Linked DNA regions of Homo sapiens. The protein of the gene in region 4 purifies or fractionates together with the protein of the main gene of each other region. This does not show direct contact. Each region holds a gene or a part of one and is shown on either strand. Other genes may lie near its edges.

Region 1 (3,500 bases), on a different chromosome or scaffold from region 4:
AATTTCTGGTAGACAACACAGTATTATTAACTACAGTCCTCTGTTGTATGTTGAATCTCTAGGCTTATGCATTCTACATAACTGCTTCTTTGTACCCTTCCACTTATACCTCTCCATTCCCCGGCCCTGTTTTATTCATCTGGGAAGCATTTGATTGTGATTTAATGCTTAGTAATGTGTGTCCATTCTTTCCACAAATAAAATATCACACAGCCCCACTGAGTAATGAGAACACTTACTCTCATTTTAGTTTGTTCACAGTGTCATATACACGTTTCTCATTTGCTTTTGTTTTTAAGCTCCTCAGTTGTAGTTCAGTTTCTTTGTATTATTTCTTTTCACTGTAGTGGTGATTCCCGTGTTCATTTTTGGCTTACATTTTAAGTGCACGTTGCTTTATGATTTTTTTCTTCACCAGATTGGAAGATTTTTTGGAGAGATTGATCCCAGCTTGATGAGACACCTGGTTAATATATCAGTTTATGCTTTTAACAAATCTTATGATTATCAGTCAGTATGTGAGCCCGGTGCTGCACCAAAACAAGGAGCAGGACATCGCTCAGCATATGTGGTCAGTAATATCCACGGTCTAATCAATTCTCAAGGGGTACTCAAGTGTCCTCAGTATCAAGTAGACTACTGAAATGACCTTATTATTTTATTTTATAGCCATCAGTAGCAGACATATTACAAATTGGCTGGTGGGCCACTGCTGCTGCCTGGTAAGTCAAAATTTTAGTTTTATTGGTAATGAAAGAAAGAAGTTGTAAAATAAAAAAGCATCTGATGAAAATATGGATTTAGGGGATATTCAAATTTTTATTAAGGGAGTTAAGTTGTTTTCATTCTTTACATCACCTATTGGTAATATTTATAGTTTTTCCTAAGTGAACACTATAAAGTTACCATTATTCAGTTTCTCATATGAAAACAATGTTATGCGGATGTAAACTTCAGCCTCTTTAGAGTCTTCCTTCCTCTACATATCTATTGAAACTCTTTTCATTTGTATTAAATATTTATAAAAACATTACACTAATTTCTTTTAGGTGTATTGATCTGTAAGAAGTTACAATTTGTCTTTAATATCCCAGTTGGATGTCTACATGCATCAAATTCATGGCATGATGGCAACCTTCTACCTCTTTACTATTGATACAAGGACTAGTATTGTTTTAGGGGCATCAGGTTGCCGACATGGATCTAATTATTTCTTTTCACTGATGCTACCTTCCAAACCTCCCTCAACCCTCACCTGTAGACCCTACAACCTATGAAAATAAGACATTTAAATGGTCAATTGTGGCACTGTGGAAGGTCTGGAAGATCACATTTCTCATTGTTTAGTTGTAACTAAACCTCCTGTTACGTCTGGAATCCATGATCTCCCTCTTCCCTCTCTCCCTTCTAATCTTTTTTTTTGTATCATCACACTGTATTGTTAGCCCTATTCCATGTAGATTAATGTACAATATTCATTTGATGTTGAGGTTTGCCCAGCTAAAATTAAGTGACTATATCATTAAAGCAGCAAAAAAGATTTTAAAATTTTGAGAGTTTTTAAAAGATTTAGAAAATTCTGTTTTATTCTGAAAAATGGTATTTTCTGATGTGATTTTATATATTAATTTCAGTAGGCTTTTAAAATTTCATCATGACCCTGAAATACTTGGCTTTATCCTATATCCCCTCCCACCCCCACTTTTTTTTAAACTAAATTCAGTTCTAGAAATTTGGCTCAGTTGTCAGTTACTGTAAAACTGAAATGTGCTGTATCTCTCTAATATGTATATTTTGTTTCATGAAAGTTACATTACATATTTACAAATATATTCTATATTACAAAGTAAATAGTTAACAAATTCAAACCCATGGTATAAACAGCATTGTTTCTTTGTTGGGGGCGGGGGAAACCCAAAAAACAAATGGTTTTAAAAACTAAAATAAGGAGACGTAATGAATGTGAAAACCTACGCGCTGAAACAGACATTCTCCCTCTTAGAGTGAACTCTTCTGCTTGATAACATTGCCTGTTAGGTTTCTTCACACATTGTGTCCCACTTGATCCTGAACAAGATCTGAACACTTCTGATTTCATGACTTCTTTTACACATTACAAAAAGGTTACAATGTGTTATATAATTTTGAAAATACTTAAATAAAAACACTCCAAGACTTTCTTTCCCAAAAAGATAAAGGGAAACAGTATTTATGTGTATGGGTACATGTAAAAACACATTTTTTCCCTAGATGTTTATTTTTTTTTTATTTGAAAAATTCAGGTCTATTCTACAGCAGTTTCTCTTGAGTTTGACCTTTCCACGACTCCTTGAGGCAGGTATGTAAATGCTCAGACCTTGTCATTGCCATAACAATAAAAATTTTCTTTTGGGATGTGCTTGAAGTTCAACAAATTCAGAGAATATTTGTGTGAAAGAGAAAACAGGTCACCCATCTCATAATTTTAGAGCTAGAAACTTTTTGTCCAACCTTTCCTAATGTTTTAGAAATTACCTAGGTCACACGGGCCTGATCTCATAGCCATCTTGTATTTGAATTCATTTATTCTCTTGATATTTATCAGGCATCTATTACGGGCTGCCACGATATTACACAGCAGTAAACAAGCCAGTCGAGGGGTCCTGGTCTTATACGTTTATTTTGCTCTGTGAGAAGTGAAGACTCGAGGGGAGTGACTACAGAGACCCCTCCTAATGGTGTTCTTTGTTTTTACACCGTCCCCCGCCACCCAAGTTGAGATGGAGGATGATGACTTCACGGCCTCCCTGTCCAAGCAGAGCTGCATTACTGAACAAACCCAGTATTTCTTCGATAACGACAGTAAATCATTCAGTGGTGTATTAGACTGTGGAAACTGTTCCAGGTAATTTATTTATTTCAGGAGTAGTCCTATTTCATTAAGAAATTGTATATACTGTTATAATCATTAAGAAATTGTATATACTGTTATAATCATTACAGAAAAAACTGAAAATTGTGTTGGAGTCAGAGATGTGAGTAATTGTTTTAAGCTGAAAATGTCAGCAATCTTTAGTTTCTCTGTAGACTTTTAAAATTTGTAATTTTTAAAATTCTAACTTTGATAAGCTGTTATTTCTTCAACTATAATAATTACATGATCAAGATAATTCCTTTCTCTTTAGGCAGAACATAGAGAAATTTGATTATATTTTAACTTTTTTTCCTAAAATAACCCATATTAAAAATTTCTAATATAAAGTTATTAAATATATTAGTAATTTAAATAATTCTAAGCCAAATATTATTTATTTTTCTATATAGTAACTAAACAGATTTACAAAAAAAAAGTCTTGTTTTGTTTTGTTTTTACTTCTAGTCTTCTCTGACTTGAAGAACTGAATGTTATCTTTATTTGAATTTGAAGGAACTGGGAAAAATACAGTTTTTTTAGGTCATGGTTAATGTTAGTCAGTATCCATAAAATATCTTTTAAAAAGAGATGGAGAATTTAATTTTGT
Region 2 (3,500 bases), on a different chromosome or scaffold from region 4:
AAGATGAGTAAGGACTGCTAACTGAACAATACAGTATCAAGGGATTTAGTTTGGATTTGGATGATGACATAATCCTAAATCAGCAGGTGTACAATAAATACATATTAAATGAATTAATTAATGGAAAGGAAGGGGCAGAACAACTGTGAGATGCCACCCAAAGGGAGACGTGAGGTTAGATTTTGGAAGTAAGGGAAGAAAGAATCAGAAAATGGCCCCAAGGTTTTTAAACTGGTAACCAACAAAAAATGACTAGATAATCTAGAGGGGGGAATGAGTTTTGGGAATAAGATAATAACTTTGGTTTACAGAATTGTGGTCACAGAATTAAAGAGCTACAAATAAATGCCTTGAAGAGTTCTTTCTACACCCTCATTTTTATAGATGGGAAAAATTCAGATGCTTTAATTGACTTAGCAGTGATACAGACCTAACTATAAGATAGCTGACACTAGCACCCAAGTCTTTTGCTTTCTTGTCTAATATAATAATAGTACCATCTCAAAAATATGAGATTAACTGTGAGAGAAAATCCTGGTGAAAACACTCTTACAAAATGGATTGGAAATTTACTTGCTTAGAGGTAGTCATTTATTTTTCTCTATTACTATAATATACCTCTCATTTTGTAATAAGAGGCAGTGATAAAATAGGAACAAATATGTAATAATTTTATTTCATAACTTATTTTGTTGGAAAACTACTGAGCAAAGCTTATAATTATAAAGTGCTAATATTCACGGAATTATAAAGGGAACTTTGAAGAAGTCCTAAAAAGAGTTTTGCTAGAATAAATTGTTCAAAGTATAAAAATGTTACCTAAAGTATCTCAGTTTTTAAAATAATCAGTGTTTATTGAGTGCCTAATTAAGGGGGGAAAACAACCTTTAATGAAGTTTTAGAACATTTGTACATGTATAAAATAAGGCTAATTAATATTTGGTTAAGGCAATAAACATAAAGAGACACATTCTTGTTGAAGGCTGGCTCACTATTCAAAATGAAAGATAAGGCTGGGTGTGGTGGCTCACGCCTGTAAGCACTTTGGGAGGCTGAGATCGGCAGATCAGCTGAGGTCAGGAGTTTGAGACCAGCCTGGGCAACATGGCAAAACCCTGTCTCTACTAAAAATACAAAAAAATTAGCTGGGCGTGGTGGCGCATGCCTGTAATCCCAGCTATGTGGGAGGCTGAGGCAGGAGAATCACTTGAACCCAGGAGGCAGAGGTTGCAGTGAGCTGAGATTGCGCCACTGCACTCCACCCTGGGTGACAGAGCAAGACTCCATCCCCCCCAAAAAAGAAAGATAATACTCAACATTTATTTGAATATTTCCGTAAAATAAGATCATTTAAATGATTTATTCAACATTTTGACTTGATTAATCTATACCTGTAGGCCGTAAGACACCACTATTGTCTTAACTGTAATATTGGGCCAAATCTACCATATAAGGTGATTGTGAATCAGGCTGAAACTCCCAACCCAGTCAGGTTGTGCCAACAGGTGACATATTTAACCTGCACAATATTTTAAAAACTTTTGTATTTGAATTCTTTTAGTGTGCCTTTACTCTCTAGTTGCTCAGGGGCATCACCATACCCTGTTGTCATTATACCTGCTTCTTTTAATCAGCTGAGGTACCAGCCTAGCGTTTGAAGACATTTTGAGTTTGAAGGCCATCTTCTATATAGTGTCTTGCTCCTGGTCATTGTATGTCCAAATATATGTCTGACTCAGTCAAGTGTAAGCAAAAAATATTTCTTAGAATGGTTCAAGTTCTATGTGTGTCAAACCCTACATTCATATACTGTAAGCAGTTCCTTTTCCTTGTGTAGTATAAGGTAAAAAATATATATAATTTTAAAAATCTGACGTAATATGCACACGTGATCATATTACATAAAATAGTAAGATTTTTTTCCACAGGTAACCTTTGATGTAGCTTGGTCTCCAAAGAACATAGACAGAAGATGCTATAATTATACTGGAATCGCAGATGCTTGTGACTTCCTCTTTGTGATGTCTTATGATGAACAAAGTCAGATCTGGTCAGAATGTATTGCAGCAGCCAATGCTCCCTATAATCAGACATTAACTGGTAAGACTCTAAACATGGTCATTTATTAATAATATTAATAATATTCTATAAATTAAAATATTAAGATGTTTTTAGTATTTCTAAGTTATATGTATACGTTTTTCAATTGTAAGGCTTGCTTCAAACATGTAAAAATCACTTAATTGAAAGCTTTAAAGTTTACAAAAAGTTTTAAAGTTTTGATTTTCACTTAATTCTTCCAACAATCTTGTGGTATAGGTATATTTCTAGATGAGATAAAAAGAATTAACTGCTCATGATTGCATAACTATTAAGTATTATATAGTTGGGGCTTAATCAGGTATTCTCATTTCTGGTCTGATATTCTTGTCATGAAATCACATGCTTATCTAGAATTTGACAGGATATTTTTGTTGAAATAACCAGTGTTAAATAATAGCAAAGATAGATATGGTTGGGCACCTTCATTGCATGATTAATAGGATAGGCATTAACTTCTTTTAGTATCTGTGATAAATTAAAAATTATATTCCTATTAGAATTTGAGTACTTTTGACCTGTCATTCATTTGATGTAGGCTTTGCATTATCCTCTTCAAAGTTTGGATTGGTTTGTATTCCATCAGTCAACTAAATAAAAGATTGCTTGTTCTTTTGTTTTTTTTTTTAATTTTTATTTTTTTGAGCAGGGTCTCACTCCATCACCCAGGCTGGAGTGCAGTGGCACGATCAGGGCTCACTGCAGCCTCAACCTCACAAGCTCAGCCTTAGCCTCCTGAGTAGCTGGGACTACGGGTGCATGCCACCATGCCCAGCTAATATTTTCATTTTTTTCTTTTTCTGAGACAGAGTCTTGCTTTGTTGCCCAGGCTGGAGTGCAGTGGCACTATGATAGCCCACTGTAACCTCGACCTCCTGGGCTTAAGTGATCCCCCAACCTCAGCCCCCTGAGTAGCTGGGTATACAGGCATGCACCACCATGCCCAGCTAATTTAAAAAAGATTTTTTTTTTAAGGAGATGGAGTCATACTATGTTGCCCAGGCTGGCCGCAAGTGATCCTCCCACCTCAGCCTCCCAGAGAGCTTCAATTACAGGCATGAGCCATTGTGCCTAGCCACATACCTATTTAAAGTTGAAAAATAACTTATTCTGTTAAAATTACGAAGTAATTATTAATTGAGGGTTCCCAAACTGTGTTTCAGGCAAGACATTATAATTATGTTCTATCAATAAAAGGTTCAAGCCTTGGGAGGCTGAGGTGGGAAGATCACATGAGGCCGAAGTTCAAGCCAGCCTGAGCAACATAGGGATACTTTGTATCATAAATAAATCAACAACCAAACTAAATAAACCAATATGTTTGGGAACTGATACATACCCCACCCCATTTTTGGTTATTTAATAGTACATAATAACATTAAAGGCTCTAAAAAGTAATA
Region 3 (3,500 bases), on a different chromosome or scaffold from region 4:
TGCAGCAAAATAATACAACAGATAAATCTCACAAATGTTTTCTATTCTTATACTCAAGAGTTCTCAAACCCGAACATGGATATATGCTCTACATAATACTTATTTAATGTATCAAGGATATGAAAAGTTAAGGGAACATCTGTTATAAATGAAAGTCATAACTTTAAAGAAATAAAACTTAGCCAGGCATGGTGGCTCATGCCTGCAATCCCAGCGCTTTGGGAGGCCAAGAAGGGCGGATCACGAGGTCAGGAGATCAAGACCATCCTGGCTAACATGGTGAAATCCCGTCTCTACTAAAAGTACATAAAAATTAGCTGGACGTGGTGGCAGTCGCCTGTAGTTCCAGCTCCCAGCTGAAGCAGGAGAATGGCGTGAACCCGCAAGGCGGAGCTTGTAGTGAGCTGAGATCGCGCCACTGCACTCCAGCCTGGTTAAGAAAGCGAGACTCCATCTCAAAAAAAAAAGAAAAAACAAACAAACAAACAAACAAACAAAAAACTTAAGAAAGTCTAATTTAAAGCATCAGAAAAAAAATCAACTGTAGTATGTAACTGATGCTTTATTCATACAATAATCTTTTCCTCTTGGCTTTGTCTCAGGCAAAAATAATGCATGTTATTAATTCTTTAACTAGAATCATGCTTACCTGTAAAACACCTCCTTCTAAAGTTTGCCACTTGAGAAAATTTCCTCTTATATCATAGGAAGCAGCAACAAACTTCAGTTTTGTATTCTGATTAAAGAAAACGAGCAAAATCAGGTCAAATACTCTGAAAGTAATACAATATCCTATAAAGAAATTTTCATTGTTGACTGATCTTTTTTGTTGAAAAATTACATTCAATTATCTTTATTTTGAGGTTCAATTAATCTATTTCTATGACTAAATAGACCTGAAAGAATTAGACTGGTTTTTTGCATGAAAATTATTATTCTAGAATTGAGAGGCAGCACTAGTGACAGATAGCCTCCTTTTGAACCTGTTAAATAGGAGGCAGTGTGGGAGAATAGTATCTCCTCATTCTGGAAGGTCAAAAAGTTACAGGTAGGAATTTGGCCCTGTGAAGTGCTGAGCAATGTCACAGAGCCCCAATCAATCTTTGGAAGCACTTCTTTAAGGTGTGGAAAAAACAGGACAGAGATTTTTTGCATTTGGTGATGAAAACTGCTCTTCCCAACCCTACAAGTACAACTTCTTGCCATAACCACACAATCCAGAAGTATCCACATATTCAGTAAGATAGCTAAACTCTATACTATTTAGTTCTTATGAGTTGTTGACATTTATATTTAGTTTAGTAACTGAGTTTGTACCAACAACCTAAAAAGGCAAGAATTGTAACTTTATTACCTTTTAAAATTATAAATCAAAATGTAGTTATCCTCTAATGATATTAGACACTTTTACCTGGTTTTCTCCTTTAAAACTGAAATTTGTAGGAAGAGAGGTAGAACTGAGCACTTGAGGTGCTAATCCTAACTGGTCTCCATAAAACAGCCAAGGAAGATTCTGTCTCCTATAAACAGTTACAACTGTTTTAATAATGGAGAATAAATATTTCTTATTATTAGTATTTGTGAATATATTAATAACTGCACTGAATTCAGTCAAAATAACATTTCATCAATCAAAATATCCTTACCAAAATGAAATAGAATGAACAGTGCTCAGTCCAGCAGTATTTTCAAAGATAAACTGAAATAGTCCACATGCATCAAATGTGGCAAAGTCGTAAGAATTCATGTTCATCACACACATATTTCCAAGAGCTTGACAAGATGTTAGATTGGCATATACCTACAACAGAACAATGGCAAAGAAAAGTAACATGAACCTGAACAGTCTATGCAAAAGTTGATATAAAAATTTTACTTTGTGCAGGTCTGTTCCAAGATGGCCGAGTAGGAACAGCTCCGGTCTGCAGCTCCCAGCATAATCAACGCAGAAGGCAGGTGATTTCTGCATTTCCAACTGAGATACCTGGTTCATCTCATTGGGACTGGTTGGACAGTGGGTGCAGCCCATGGAGGGCAAGCTGAAGCAGGGTGGGGCATCACCTCACCCAGGAAGCGCAAGGGGTTGGGGGATTTCCCTTTCCTAGCCAAGGGAAGCCGTGACAGACTGTACCTGGAAAAATGGGACACCTCCACCTAAACACTGCGCTTTTCCAATGGTCTTAGCAAACGGCACACCAGATTACATCCCACGCCTGGCTCGGTGGGTCCCACGCCTACAGAGCCTTGCTCACTGCTAGCACAGCTGAGATCAACCTGCCAGGCAGCAGGCTGGCAGGGGGAGGGGTGTCTGCCATTGCTGAGGCTTGAGTAGGAAAACAAAGCAGCCGGGGAAGCTCCAACTGGGTGGAGCCCACCGCAGTTCAGCAAGGCCTGCTGCCTCTGTTGACTCCACCTCTGGCAGCAGGGCATAGCTGAACAAAAGGCACCAGAAACTTCTGCAGAGTTAAACATCCCTGTCTGACAGCTCTGAAGAGAGCAGTGGTTCTCCCAGCACAGCGTTTGAGCTCAGAGAATGGATAGACTGCCTCCTCAAGTGGATCCCTGACCCTGTGTAGCCTAACTGGGAGACACCTCCCAGTAGGGGCCGACAGACACCTCATACAGGTGGGCGCCCCTCTGGGACGAAGCTTCCAGAGGAAGGATCAGGCAGCAATATTTGCTGTTCTACAACCTCCGCTGGTAATATCCAGGAAAACAGCGTCTGGAGTGGACCTCTAGCAAACTCCAACAGACCTGCAGCTGAGGGACCTGTTAGAAGGAAAACTAACAAATAGAAAGGAATAGCATCAACATCAACAAAAAGGACATCCACATCAAAACCCCATCCACATCAAAACCCCATCTGTAGGTCACCAACATCAAAGACCAAAGGTAGGTAAAACCATAAAGATGGGGAGAAACCAGAGCAGAAAAGCTGAAAATTCTAAAAACCAGAGTGCCTCCTCTCTTCCAAAGGAATGCAGCTCCTCACCAGCAACAGAACAAAGCTGGATGGAGAATGACTTTGACAAACTGACAGAAGTACGCTTCAGAAGGTCGGTAATAACAAACTTCTCTGAGCTAAAGGAGGATGTTCGAACCCGTCGGAAGGAAGCTAAAAACCTTGAAAAAAGATTAGACAAATGGCTAACTAGAATAAACAGTGTAGAGAAGACCTTAAATGACCTGATGGAGCTAAAAGACATGGCACAAGAACTATGTGATGCATGCACAAGCTTCAGTAGCCGATTTGGTCAAGTGGAAGAAAGGGTATCAGTAATTGAAGATCAAATTAATGAAATAAAGCGAGACGACAAGGTTAGAGAAAAAAGACTAAAAAGAAATGAGCAAAGCCTCCAAGAAATATGGGACTATGTGAAAAGACCAAATCTATGTTTGATTGGTGTACCTGAAAGTGATGGGGAAAATGGAACCAAGTTGGAAGACACTCTTCAGGATATTATCCAGGAGAACTTCCCCAACCTAGCAAGGCAGGCCAA
Region 4 (3,941 bases):
TTTCCACTGAGTCCCTTCCTAGCCAGTGTCTCTTCTTCTCTTCATTGTAAGGGTTTTAGAAAGAATTATTTACACTTGCTGACCTCACTGTTTCACTTACCTTTCAGTTTTCAACCCCATTGACTGTTTTCTGCCCCTACAGAAATGGCTTTCACTGTTGTTGTTGTTGTTGTTGTTTTTCCCTTGTAATCCCTCTGTATGCTATTATACCCTTGACATCTGTTTCAAGCAGGGTCCAGTCAGAGAAACAGTAACTACAGGATGCAGCTACCACCCGAGGGCTGAGGGAACTAAAGGAAAGAGATGCCTTTTCTTTTCTTTTCTGAGACAGAGTCTTGCTCTGTCGCCCAGTCGGGAGTGCAGTGGCGCGATCTCGGCTCACCACAGCCTCCCCAGGTTCAAGCGATTATCTTGCCTCAGCCTCCCAAGTAGCTGGGATTATAGGCATGCACCACCACACCTGGCTACTTTTTGTATTTGTAGTAGAGATGGGGTTTCACCATGTTGGCCAGGCTGGTCTCGAACTCCTGACCTCAAGTGATCCACCCACCTTGGCCTCCCAAACTGCTGGGATTACAGGCGTGAGCCACCGTGCCCGGCCAAGAATGAGTTTTCAAAACCCGAGTTCAGAAGAAGGATTCTGAGTGGTTGGTTCTCAGATCTCTGAGGAAGCGGAAGGATGACCCTAGGGGGAGGGCCACCGCATGTTAGAACCCAGCAGGGGGCTGTGACAGACAGGCTGGTGCTCGGAGCTTCATCTCTTTCTGCCGTTTTCCTCTCAGTTTTTGCTCTGGTTATGTCATATTTCTCATTTTCAACACCAACATGAGCCTTTGTACAGACATTCCTCCACCTGGAACCCCATTTCAGCTCATCTACCTGTTGCTTTGTATTTATTCTTCAAAACTCTGCCGTCTTCCCTGACCTTCCGGAGCCGGTGTTTGTGGCGCCTCCTGCTGGTCACTGGGTTCAGGCAGTTTGGAGCTGGGTGGAAGGAACGGGTAGTATATTAAGTCTTGGGCCCTGGACCTTGTTGGCTGTCCTCTCCCTGCTGACCTAAATGACAAAGGGAGGGGTGTCCAGTCAGAGTGTGAGGGCTGTACCCGTGGGCAGCTGAGGGAGTGCGAGCCACAGGCCAGGCACTCTCCTTCTCCCATTAGCTCAGCCGTGGCATCGGACTTGCAGCTTCATTTTGGGCTGCCTTAGCCATGAAGCTCCTTTTGCTGACTTTGACTGTGCTGCTGCTCTTATCCCAGCTGACTCCAGGTAACCTGAACCTCCTTAAGGAAGGGGCAGGGCTTAGAGACTAAGGCCTGGTCAGAGAATCCCAAGGGCTAGAAGGATGGGCTGCAGGTTGTCATCTAGCACCACGTATAGGAGGCAGGAGGCGCCTCACCAGCAGCAGGTGCCAGCTGATAGATGACAACTACAACATCCAGAGCTGCTCTCTCAGCGGCTCCATCCCTCCTCTTCCTGCCCAGCTCCAGGGAGCATGTGGGGGTGGCCTAGTGTGTGAGGAGGAGTGGGAGGGGTGAGCAAGAGAAGCAGGAAAGAGGAGAGGCAGGTATGGCCCTTTTGCAAAATAGTCCCCAGAATGAACGAAGCTTTGTGAAGATCACAGCTACCTTAATGGGAGAGAAAGCTCATTTGTACTTAGCTGTCTCTGTGCCAGACTCTGCGCTGGAAGCTAGGACCACGGAGATAAATGACATGGTGCCAGGGGAACTAACTGGAGGAGACAGTTAAATAGCATTTATAACCCAGGGTGACACGGCTGTGGCAGTGGGAAACCAGGGGGCTGGGTACACATGGTCCAGCCCAGGCTGAGGGAAAGGAGAGTCCTCCTGGAGGGATATCCTGAGTCCTAAAAAGTGAGTCGAAAATAGAAAAGGAAGGAGAGGGGAAAGCAGAAGGGTGTCCCAGGCAGAGAGGTCAGCCTATGCAAAGGTTGGATGCGGGAGAGAGCATGGGAGTGTCGGGGACCTGCATAACATGGAGGGGTGGGTTAGGAGAGAGGCGGGGGTAAAGCTGAGGAAGCATTCAAGCTCCAGGTCTCAGTGGGCCTCAAATGCCAGGTGAGGGACCCATGGGAAGGTTTAAACAGAGAAAGACCCTGGTCAGACCTACCACCCACCAATTCCAGCATGAGCCACCTATCCCTTCCTGCTCATCTGGCAGAAGTTTCCACCCACCCTAAGGCTGTCGGCTAACCTTTCTACAGAGTCAGAAACGTGTGAATTTCCTAAACAAGCTGACCTCCGTCCTTGTGTCTTCCTGAGGCCCTAAAACACCACTCACCTGGAGTAGGGAGGAAAGCCCAGACCCCGGGTTAAAACCTGCCCCATCATTTTCTGACTCTGTGAGCCCCAACAAGAAGCTCAGCTGCTCAGAGTATCAATTTCCTCATTTCTCAAACTGCAATAACATCAAGTGTGTAATAATATCAGGTTGAGGGAACAACATTGAACACACTGAAATTTTGGTCTGCAAAAGAAATATGGCTTCTCTATTTTCTCTAACTCACCAAACTTTCCCAGGAACTTCCATCCTGACTGTGGGAGTTAGTGGTGGGAGGAGCAGGACTACAGAGATAAATGACATGGCACCAGGGGAGCAAACTAGGGGAGACAGTTAAATAGCACTTACAACCCAGGGTGACAAGGCACATAGGGGCTGGGCCTGAACTCAGCAGTTCAATATTTGTCTTTTCTGTTTTAAAATGATTTCTAAGCTAATTCAATCTCTTTTGAATAAGTGTTGAGTCTTTCAGCATGTCTCTTTCTTCCATCACCCTTTCTCTTTCCTGGGATAGTATCTGGTTACAGGGAAAAGTAACTTGATATGTCATCAAATAATTAATTGCTTCATTCAGTAAATACAGTTGAATGGATTTCTTGTTCCAAGCACTGTGATGGGTGCTAGAGGTAGAACTGGGAACAAAACAAGATAAGCAAAATCTCTGTCCTCTTGGAGCTTACCTTCTACTGGAGGACCCAAAGAATTTGAAAAATAAATGAAACATATGGTATGTCAGATAATGAGTACAGTGAGCAGAATAGGCAGGAAAGGAAATAGTGAACACCAGGGGAAGGGGAAGGTCATTTGCTTTTTTTTTTTTTTTTTTTTTGGAGACAGGGTCTTGCTCTGTCACCCAGGCTGGAGTGCTGGAGTGTAGAGGCACGATCTTAGCTCACTGCAACCTCCACCTCCCGGATTCAAGCAGTTTTCATGCCTCAGCCTCCTAAGTAACTGGGATTACAGGCGCCTGCAACCACGCCTGGCAAATTTTTGTATTTTTAGTAGGATACGGTTTGGCCATGTTGCCCAGGCTGGTCTTGAATCCCTGACCTCAAGCAATCTGCTTGCCTCAGCCTCCCAAAGTGCTGGGATTACAGGCTTGAGCCACCATGCCCGGTCTTTGCCATTTTTAAGGGGTTGTTCATGGAATGTCTCACTGTGACCTGAGGGAACAACCGGTGTGAGCATGTGGCTATGGAGGGAAGGAAATTCAAGCTGGGGAAAACAGCAAGTGCAAGGGTCCTGGGATAGGAACATAAGGAGGTGGGGTCAGGTCCTGTGCTGGACCCTTACTGACTTCTGGGATCACGACCCTCGTTGGATGTGGTTAGTAGCGTCCTGCTAGCACTTACTACTGGATTTCATGACTGATGAAATCTCTCAGCCCTTTTGGGGTCCCCACTGACTCGACCCTTCATCTCAGCCAGATCTTCCATCTGGTCCCCAAGTTAAGGCTGTTCACACCCTCCCTTACTGCCTTCTGCACTAGGGGTGTACTCTTGGCAGGTCCCTCACTGGTTTTCCTATCTCAGCCAGAGACAAGGGAACCTGGGGACCTTCTGGGTCTATTTTATTCAACAGAGAGCTGACAGTGATGCTCAGCCACTTCCCTTAGCCATTTCTAATCCCCCTTCAGGTAGCAC

Evidence for each region. The genes of interacting proteins can lie anywhere in the genome.
Region 1: the proteins of DEFB123 (region 4) and CACNA2D1 purify together in Homo sapiens (affinity purification with mass spectrometry; one large-scale study listed by BioGRID and IntAct). This does not show direct contact.
Region 2: the proteins of DEFB123 (region 4) and CTBS purify together in Homo sapiens (affinity purification with mass spectrometry; one large-scale study listed by BioGRID and IntAct). This does not show direct contact.
Region 3: the proteins of DEFB123 (region 4) and TMEM67 purify together in Homo sapiens (affinity purification with mass spectrometry; one large-scale study listed by BioGRID and IntAct). This does not show direct contact.

The regions. Positions count from the first base shown.
Region 1 is NC_000007.14:81,961,278-81,964,777, reverse strand, and holds part of CACNA2D1 (voltage-dependent calcium channel subunit alpha-2/delta-1 isoform 1 preproprotein), read left to right. Parts: intron 1-418; coding exon 419-571; intron 572-669; coding exon 670-722; intron 723-2,282; coding exon 2,283-2,338; intron 2,339-2,754; coding exon 2,755-2,884; intron 2,885-3,500. UniProt on the Homo sapiens protein: The alpha-2/delta subunit of voltage-dependent calcium channels regulates calcium current density and activation/inactivation kinetics of the calcium channel. Plays an important role in excitation-contraction coupling.
Region 2 is NC_000001.11:84,564,441-84,567,940, reverse strand, and holds part of CTBS (di-N-acetylchitobiase precursor), read left to right. Parts: intron 1-561; exon of another isoform or gene 562-1,928; coding exon 1,929-2,100; intron 2,101-3,500. UniProt on the Homo sapiens protein: Involved in the degradation of asparagine-linked glycoproteins. Hydrolyze of N-acetyl-beta-D-glucosamine (1-4)N-acetylglucosamine chitobiose core from the reducing end of the bond, it requires prior cleavage by glycosylasparaginase.
Region 3 is NC_000008.11:93,778,894-93,782,393, reverse strand, and holds part of TMEM67 (meckelin isoform 1 precursor), read right to left. Parts: intron 1,802-3,500; coding exon 1,647-1,801; intron 1,521-1,646; coding exon 1,412-1,520; intron 737-1,411; coding exon 650-736; intron 1-649. UniProt on the Homo sapiens protein: Required for ciliary structure and function. Part of the tectonic-like complex which is required for tissue-specific ciliogenesis and may regulate ciliary membrane composition.
Region 4 is NC_000020.11:31,439,491-31,443,431, forward strand, and holds the start of DEFB123 (beta-defensin 123 precursor), read left to right. Parts: upstream 1-1,141; 5' UTR 1,142-1,208; coding exon 1,209-1,266; intron 1,267-3,941. UniProt on the Homo sapiens protein: Has antibacterial activity.